Homo sapiens: one gene and its partner. The protein of the gene in region 2 interacts with the protein of the main gene of each other region in a biochemical or structural test. Each region holds a gene or a part of one and is shown on either strand. Other genes may lie near its edges. The genes, in order: NANOG and BRAF.

Region 1 (3,821 bases), on a different chromosome or scaffold from region 2:
TTAGGAGACGGGGTTTCGCCACGTTGGCCAGGCTGGTCTTGAACTCCTGTCCTCAGGTGATCCACCCACCTTGGCCTCCCAAAGTGTTAAGATTATAAGCTTGAGACACCATGCCTGGCCTGCAAATAGATTTCATAGCTGCTCAATGAGCCAAGAACTACTTTCGTGGCCAGGAATAACTGCCCCTTTGTCTCTCTGATAAGAGCACATTGACACCCATGTTCCAGGTACATCTGTTCTGCAGATCCCTGGCCCTAATTGAATCTCAAATTCTCACCCTTGGTTCTTGTCCTTAGCTCTTGTGACTACGCCAGTGTTATCAGAGGACATGTAAACACTGCTACCCTTTCTACTCCACATGCACCTTATCCTAAATGGATTAATGTATCCCATCTTTTTGCCTGTTTTGTTCCATGTATTTAATTGATTTAATACGATTCTAGCATCTTAATTTGATCTGTGAGCTTTTCTGTTTCTTAATAGTTTGCTTGGTAGTATCATCAGAGGTAGTGCTACCACTGCATTGAAGTAATTTCTCAGATGCTTAACCTTCTAAAATTCTCAAGCACACTTTATTCAAGGACCACAGAGTTTACACCAACTACCCAGAAGCCAGGAATAGCTTAAGGAGAGACTCACCACCAGCAGCTTCTTTTCAATCAAGTTTCACTTCAACCTCACACCCAGGAACCCATTCAAATTCCTACATTTCGGTATCCTTAGTCGAACTAACTTCCTGTGCCGGAAGCTTTTGTCTGTCCCAGTGACTTCTTTCTTTAACAAATTCCCTTCATCTCCCCCTTGAGTCAAAGCCCATGGGGGCCCCAGGAGGCATGCAATATTTACCAAGGGCTCTCCCCCACTTTCCTGCCTCTGTCTGGCAGTTGTTTGCCTTTACTTTTAGGTTTGTAGTCACAGCCTGTATTTTTTCCTGTAGACACACCAGGTTTTCTGAACGGTAGAATTACTCAGAGTAGAATTAACCTTGTCCTTCACCCCGAGAACTGAGCTTGAAATTCACTAATCAAGGCCTGTATTCCTCCCACTTCTGAGTTTTAAATTTATATTATGAAATTCGGAAAACCCAGGCAAATTCAATCCATGCTTCTCTCCTTCAGGTACAAACTGAAATGAAAATGAAAGCTGAGAAATCAAAATAATGAATTTTAAAAACTAAAATATGGTAAAGCTACTAAAATATAGCATTGGAAGTAACACACACCTCCTTTTGGGAAAAGAAAGGAAAATTTTCTAGAGAAAGGAAGAAATGTTAAACAGAGAGCCTTGTACTATCCTTTTTGCCTAATCTCCTATTATTTTTGTTTATTTTTGAGACAGTGACGCTCTGTCGCCCAGGCTGGAGTGGGGTGGCATTATCTGGGGTCACTGCAACCTCCCGGGTTCAAGTGATTATCCTGCCTCCGCCTTCCAAGTAGCTGAGATTACAGGCGCAAACCAAGACCTCTGGCAAATTTCTGTATTTTTAGTAGAGACAGGGTTTCGCCATATTGGCCATGCTAAACTTGAACTCCTGACCTCAGGTGATCCACCTGCCTTGGTCTCCCGAAGTGCTGGGATTACAGGTGTGAGCCACGGCACCTGGCCCACTAATCTTACTGCTTTTGACTGTAGTTATTATTGTTACTTTAAAGATTATTCCAAATAGATCTCTAAATTCTTACCTGCCAAGAGGTTGAAGATTAATACTGGGTGATTAAAAAAAAAAAAGTTCAGAAAACATAATACAGGGCTAGGCTGGTGACTCATGCCTGTAATCTCAGCACTTCGGGAGGCCAAGGCTGGTAGACTGCTTGAGCTCAGGAGTTTGAGACTAGCCAGGCCAACATGGGGAAACCCCGTCTCTCCTAAAAACACAAAAGTTAGCTGGCATGGTGGTGTGCACCTATAGTCTGGGCTATTTGAGAGACTCAGGCAGGAGGATTGCTTGAATCCGGGAAGTCGAGGCTACAGTGAGGTGAAATGGTGCCACTAAGCCCCAGTCTGAGCAGCAGAATAAGCCCGTCTTAAAAAAATAAAAAAGAAGGCTGGGCACTGTGGCTCATGCCTGTAATCCTAGCACTTTGGGAGACCGAGGAGGGTGGATTACCTGAGGTCAGGAGTTCGAGACCAGCCTGGTCAATACGGTGAAACCCCATCTCTACTAAATACAAAGAATTAGCTGGGCATAGTGGCAAATCCCTGTAATACCAGCCACTCGAAAGGCTGAGGCAAGAGAATCACTTGAACCTGGGAGGTGCAGGTTGCAGTGAGTAGAGATTGCATCATTGTGCTCCAGCCTGAGTAACAAAAGTGAAGTTCCATCTCAAAAAAAAAAAAAAAAATTGCCCAGACACGGTGGCTCACACCTATAATCCCACCACTTTGGGAGGCCGAGTCAGGTGGATCACCTGAGGTCAGGAGTTCGAGACCAGGCTGGCCAACATGGTGAAACCCCATCTCTACTAAAAATACCAAAAATTAGCCGGGTGTAATGTTGGGTGCCTGTAATCCCAGCTACTTAGGAGGCTGACGCAGGAGAATTGCTCGAACCCAGGAGGCGGAGGTTGCAGTGAGCCAAGATTGTGCCACTGCACTCCAGCCTGGGCAATAGAGAGAGACTGTCTAAAAAAACAAACGATAGGCCAGGCGCAGTGGCTCACGCCTGTAATCCCAACACTTTGGGAGGCCAAGGCTGGTGGATCATGAGGTCAGGAGTTCAAGACCAGCCTGGCCAACATAGTGAAACCCTGTCTCTACTAAAAATACAATTAGCTGGGCATGGTGGCTCACCCCTGTAGTCCCAGCTACTTGGGAGGCTGAGGCAGGAGAATCACTTGAACTCGGGAGGCGGAGGTTGCGGTGAGCCGAGATCGCTCCACTACACTCCAGCCTGGGCAACAGAGTAAGACTCCAGTCTTAAAAAAAAACAAAATAAAACAAAAAAAAAACACTTGGAATTAGACTGGATAGTCTTAGTAACATTGGACAATTGGGGAAATAATGAGAGAAAAGACTGGAAAAAACCACTCTGATAACCTGCATCATGCTGCTTCAGAGTGAAGGGACGTGCTCTCAGATCAGATACATTTAGGGCAGGCACAAGATGGGAAAAGGACAGTAAAGGATTATTAGTATAATTCACAGATGCCTGCGTAGCTGCTCTTAAGGTGAGAACATAAATCTGTTTCAACTAGCCTTAGAATTTACTTACATATAGGCCTCTGATGAAACTTTAAATGTTAGCATCAATTACAGATTCATACACGGAAATAACCCATTACATTTGTAGATGCACATGTACAATGCACGTAAGTGCCCTTTTTTCTAAAACTGGCATATTTATTATTCATTCATTCTAAAACTGGCATATTTATTTATTATTCATTTATTTACTTATTTATTTATTTATTTTTGAGATGGGAGTTTTGCTCTTGTCGCCCAAGCTGGAGTGCAGTGGTGTGATATTGGCTCACTACAACCTCCACCTACCAGGTTCAAGCGATTCTCCTGCCTCAGCCTCCCAAATAGCTGGGACTACAGGCATAGGCCACCACGCTCAGCTATTTCTATGCATTTCTAAGATAGCAGTGTCCTCAGCTAATTTCCTTCTCCACCCCAACCAAAAATTTAACAAAGATTTATGTTTAAGCTGTATATTTACTCATTGAAACACTCGGTGAAATCAGGGTAAAATCAACTAAAGGAAAAATAGTTGTTTCATTCATTTGAACTTAAACCAACTAAAGCAGTACTCATGTCATTACGATGCAGCAAATACGAGACCTCTTTCTACAAAGATTAGCACAACCAACAAATTAGGG
Region 2 (3,821 bases):
CTACAGAGCTTAGCCACACCCATCGCAAAGGAGACTAGTAAAGAAAGAAAGGAAAGGTGTCAGATGCAGATGATGGGAGCCTAGGCAGGATGGCATTGAGAAGAAAAAGAGAGTGAACAATGAAAGGAAGATAACTGTGAGGCAGGTATGCTGGGAAATTATAGAAGGAGCTCTATCAATAAAGAGACCCCTGACCTTGTGCCTCAAAATGGCCAAACATTTGGAGCATTCCACAAAGTCAATTTTGTAAAAACTTTGTTAGTTACATGCTTGCTAGTCTTCTATTTGTGAATGAATAAAACCCTATCTAACAATTACTAATAATCATATATTTAATGCCACTGGAGGATTTAAAAATCATATACTTAGATATTTTCCAATAGTTGTACTTCTTTATTCCTTAGTATCATTTTTAAAAATACGTGAAATGTTCCTTTTCATTTTCTTAACTAAAGTCATGAATCAATTCTGATTCATAATGGCATTACTTATCTTAAGCTACCCAAATGAGGGGTTAAAGATTTGCCGTAATTATTATTGAGTGATTTTCCTGGATGACATCTAAGTATTCAAATAAAGAAAATGTTTCAAAAATTTATTTGTGGGTACTTAAAAACTAAATTATCATTAATTTAAAGTCTTCTCAATTTCCTTCTTTATTGACTTCAAGGAGGCATTTATGCAGATATGTGTTTACTGGAAGAACCTTGATCTATTGGCTACATTTAAAAATCATGACAAAACCAAATTGAGTAAGTGAAGATATAGTTAAGAGGCTGACAGTGAAGCAGAGATGGCCAAATCTTTGATAGGACCACGTGCTGTTGCTTTCTACTTTTGATTCCCTCTGAATCACAGTAAGAATACACTGACCACCACATTACAGTCATTTTCTACACAACAAAGTGTAAGTACTAAAGAACCCTAACAAATACTTCATACCATTGAATGAAAAAAGGAGAAGAGCATTCATTCATCATAAGTAGAATCTTGCTGGGCAAAGAATATAAGGAGGACAGAACATGAGACACAATGATAAGGTGATTGCTAAAATATGCATCATGAGAGGTAAGAATAATCTAATAACAACTTTAAAAAATCTATTACCTGGTGTTTGGCAACCAGAGGTATCTCAAAGAAAAACACACCTAAAAGTTCTCACAGAATTCTGTGAAGATTTTTTGCAGGGGAGAGATTGGGTGTGAAGGGAGCAATGCGTTTGCAACAAAATTTGACTTCTACATGAGCGAGACATCCTTAATGTATTTTAAAAAAAGCTATTTAAAAGAAACTCCAATTTATAACATTTTCCCGCTAAAAATCCGAAGTTAAGACATTTTACTCATGTCAAACGTGCCACTCCTCAGCAATATTTTTGGTCACCTGCACTCAAAATTTATAAAAAGAAACTTAGTTTATTGCTTCAAGGAAATAAAAGACATCCACATTTTCCAAATTGTTATAAAAAGAAATAGTTATAGAAAAATTATTAAGAATAATAATAGAATTATTAAATTCTACTGACTTCCTAAATTAGATCTGTTCAGTTTGCCTTATCTAACCCAGGCTAACCGACTGCCAACTTCTCACCTGCAAACACAGGCATAGGTAGGGTCTTCTTCTGGAGTCCCTAGTGGACATGTGATAGCTGGCAACAAAAGTTGCATGAGAAACTGAAGTTTACTACTTAAAATAACCAAGTGAATGATACAAACCCGGAACAGAAAGTAAAGCCTCTAGAAGAGGCTCTGCCAATTTTTAGCAATGTCTATGTATTTTAACCCTTGGATGTTAAAAATCCAATGTTAAGTATAAATTTTAGTTTGGGGAAAAATTATATCTAGTCTTTAACCACACAAGTGTTCTTTGGTTCACCTTAAAAAAAAAGAGAGTATTTTATTCAATTTAACATATAAGCAAACATATGTTCATTTATTTTCCTTTTGTTGCTACTCTCCTGAACTCTCTCACTCATTTGTTTCAGTGGACAGGAAACGCACCATATCCCCCTGCCTGGATGGGTGTTTTTGGAGAAGCACAAGCATATAGACTAAAATCCTCTGTTTGGAAACCAGCCCGATTCAAGGAGGGTTCTGATGCACTGCGGTGAATTTTTGGCAATGAGCGGGCCAGCAGCTCAATAGAGGCGAGAATCTACAAAAAAAAAAAGAAAAAAAAAAGAAAAAAAAAGAAAAAAGAAAAAAAAAGAAAGAAAGAAAAAGAAAAAACAGAAAGAAGAATGAAAATCTGGGTGGTATAAATCTTTAAGAGTCCCATCACACTTTACAAGAAAGCACCTGAAATCTTACATTGTTTTCAGCATTGTCATAAATGCTTGGGAAAATATTTGTAAATAATTGGTATTTTTTCTTAAGAAGAAACTCTCTCTGTAAATTAAATGGGGAGAGTAATTCTTAGTCAGCTTTTATTTATATTTTAGATCATTTGTTAGTCTTGAAACAGTAAATAATAGAAATTTAAAACCAATTTTATACCTTTTTGTTATAGACCACAAGTCTCTTTTGGGAAGAAGATGGAGTATAAATAAGTAAAGCACTTTATGACTATCTCTAAACAGAATTATCACAGCTACTTGCCCTTTAAAGAAACCTAGCCATGGGAAATGTTTTACATACACCTAATTGAAAGCAGAACCTCACAGACCCAGAGTGCTAGTAGCACATGAGAAGTGACAGGGGACAACCCAAGAGCAAAGATAGGAGAACTCGACAAATAGACCCCAATATATAAAATGCAGAAATTCACAATTTTAAGGCACAAAGAAACAGGTTATAATCCTTGAAGGCATACAGCATGATAATGCATGTTCATAATCATGAAACATGTTTAAAGGGCTTGGCATAATGCCTGGCCTATAATAAGCACTCAATAAAACCTTAGCAGCTATTATTATTACTTTTGTTATTGTCCTGAGATACCAATTTTTTTTTTTTTTTGAAACGGAGTCTCGCTGTTGTCAACCAGGCTGGAGTGCAGTGGCACAATCTCAGCTCACTGCAACCTCCCCCTCCTGGGTTCAAGCGATTCTCCTGCCTCAGCCTCCTGAGTAGCTGGGATTACAGGAGCGCACCACCATGCCCAGCTAAATTTTTGTATTTTTAGCAGAGACAGGGTTTCACCACGTTGGCCAGGCTGGTCTCAAACTCCTGACCTCAGGTGATCTGCCTGCCTCGGCCTCCCAAAGGGCTGGGATTACAGACATGAGCCACCATGCCTGGCTGAAAATTGTTTTTAAAAGTTAAATTTTTTTTAAAAAGTAATCTTTATGATGATTAGTATAAGACAAAGAAGTAAGCAGTTGCAAAAAATTGTAAATTCCAAGTATAACATGCAAATAAAAATTAAAATACTATAGAAATGTATAAAGAGTATAAGGCTCTCAAATCCTGCTCTCCAGGGATAACCACTGTTAGAGTCTATACTTTCTTCTGTACCTTTTTTTTTTTTTTTTGAGATGGAGTCTCACTCTATTGTCCAGGCTGGAGTGCAGTGGCGCGATCTCAGCTCACTGCAACCTCCGCCTCCCAGGTTCAAGCGATTCTCCTGCCTCAGCCTCCCGAGTAGCTGGGATCACAGGCGTGTGCCACCACGCCCGGATAATTTTGTATTTTTAGTAGAGACGGGTATCACCATTTTGCCCAGGCTGGTCTCGAACTCCTAACCTCAACTGATCCACCCACCTTGGCCTCCCAAAGTGCTGGGATTACAGGTGTGAGTCACTGCGCCTGGCCTCTTCAGTACCTTTTTTTATGTATAAAAATACATACATGAAAACAAGGCCCACCTGAACACCACTTTTT

Evidence for each region.
Region 1: of the proteins of BRAF (region 2) and NANOG, one has a biochemical effect on the other in vitro, tested with the Homo sapiens proteins (one study listed by BioGRID).

What each region holds. Positions count from the first base shown.
Region 1 is NC_000012.12:7,795,879-7,799,699, reverse strand, and holds the end of NANOG (homeobox protein NANOG), read right to left. Parts: 3' UTR 554-3,821; downstream 1-553. UniProt on the Homo sapiens protein: Transcription regulator involved in inner cell mass and embryonic stem (ES) cells proliferation and self-renewal. Imposes pluripotency on ES cells and prevents their differentiation towards extraembryonic endoderm and trophectoderm lineages.
Region 2 is NC_000007.14:140,732,617-140,736,437, forward strand, and holds part of BRAF (serine/threonine-protein kinase B-raf), read right to left. Parts: intron 2,155-3,821; coding exon 1,981-2,154; 3' UTR 1-1,980. UniProt on the Homo sapiens protein: Protein kinase involved in the transduction of mitogenic signals from the cell membrane to the nucleus. Phosphorylates MAP2K1, and thereby activates the MAP kinase signal transduction pathway. Phosphorylates PFKFB2.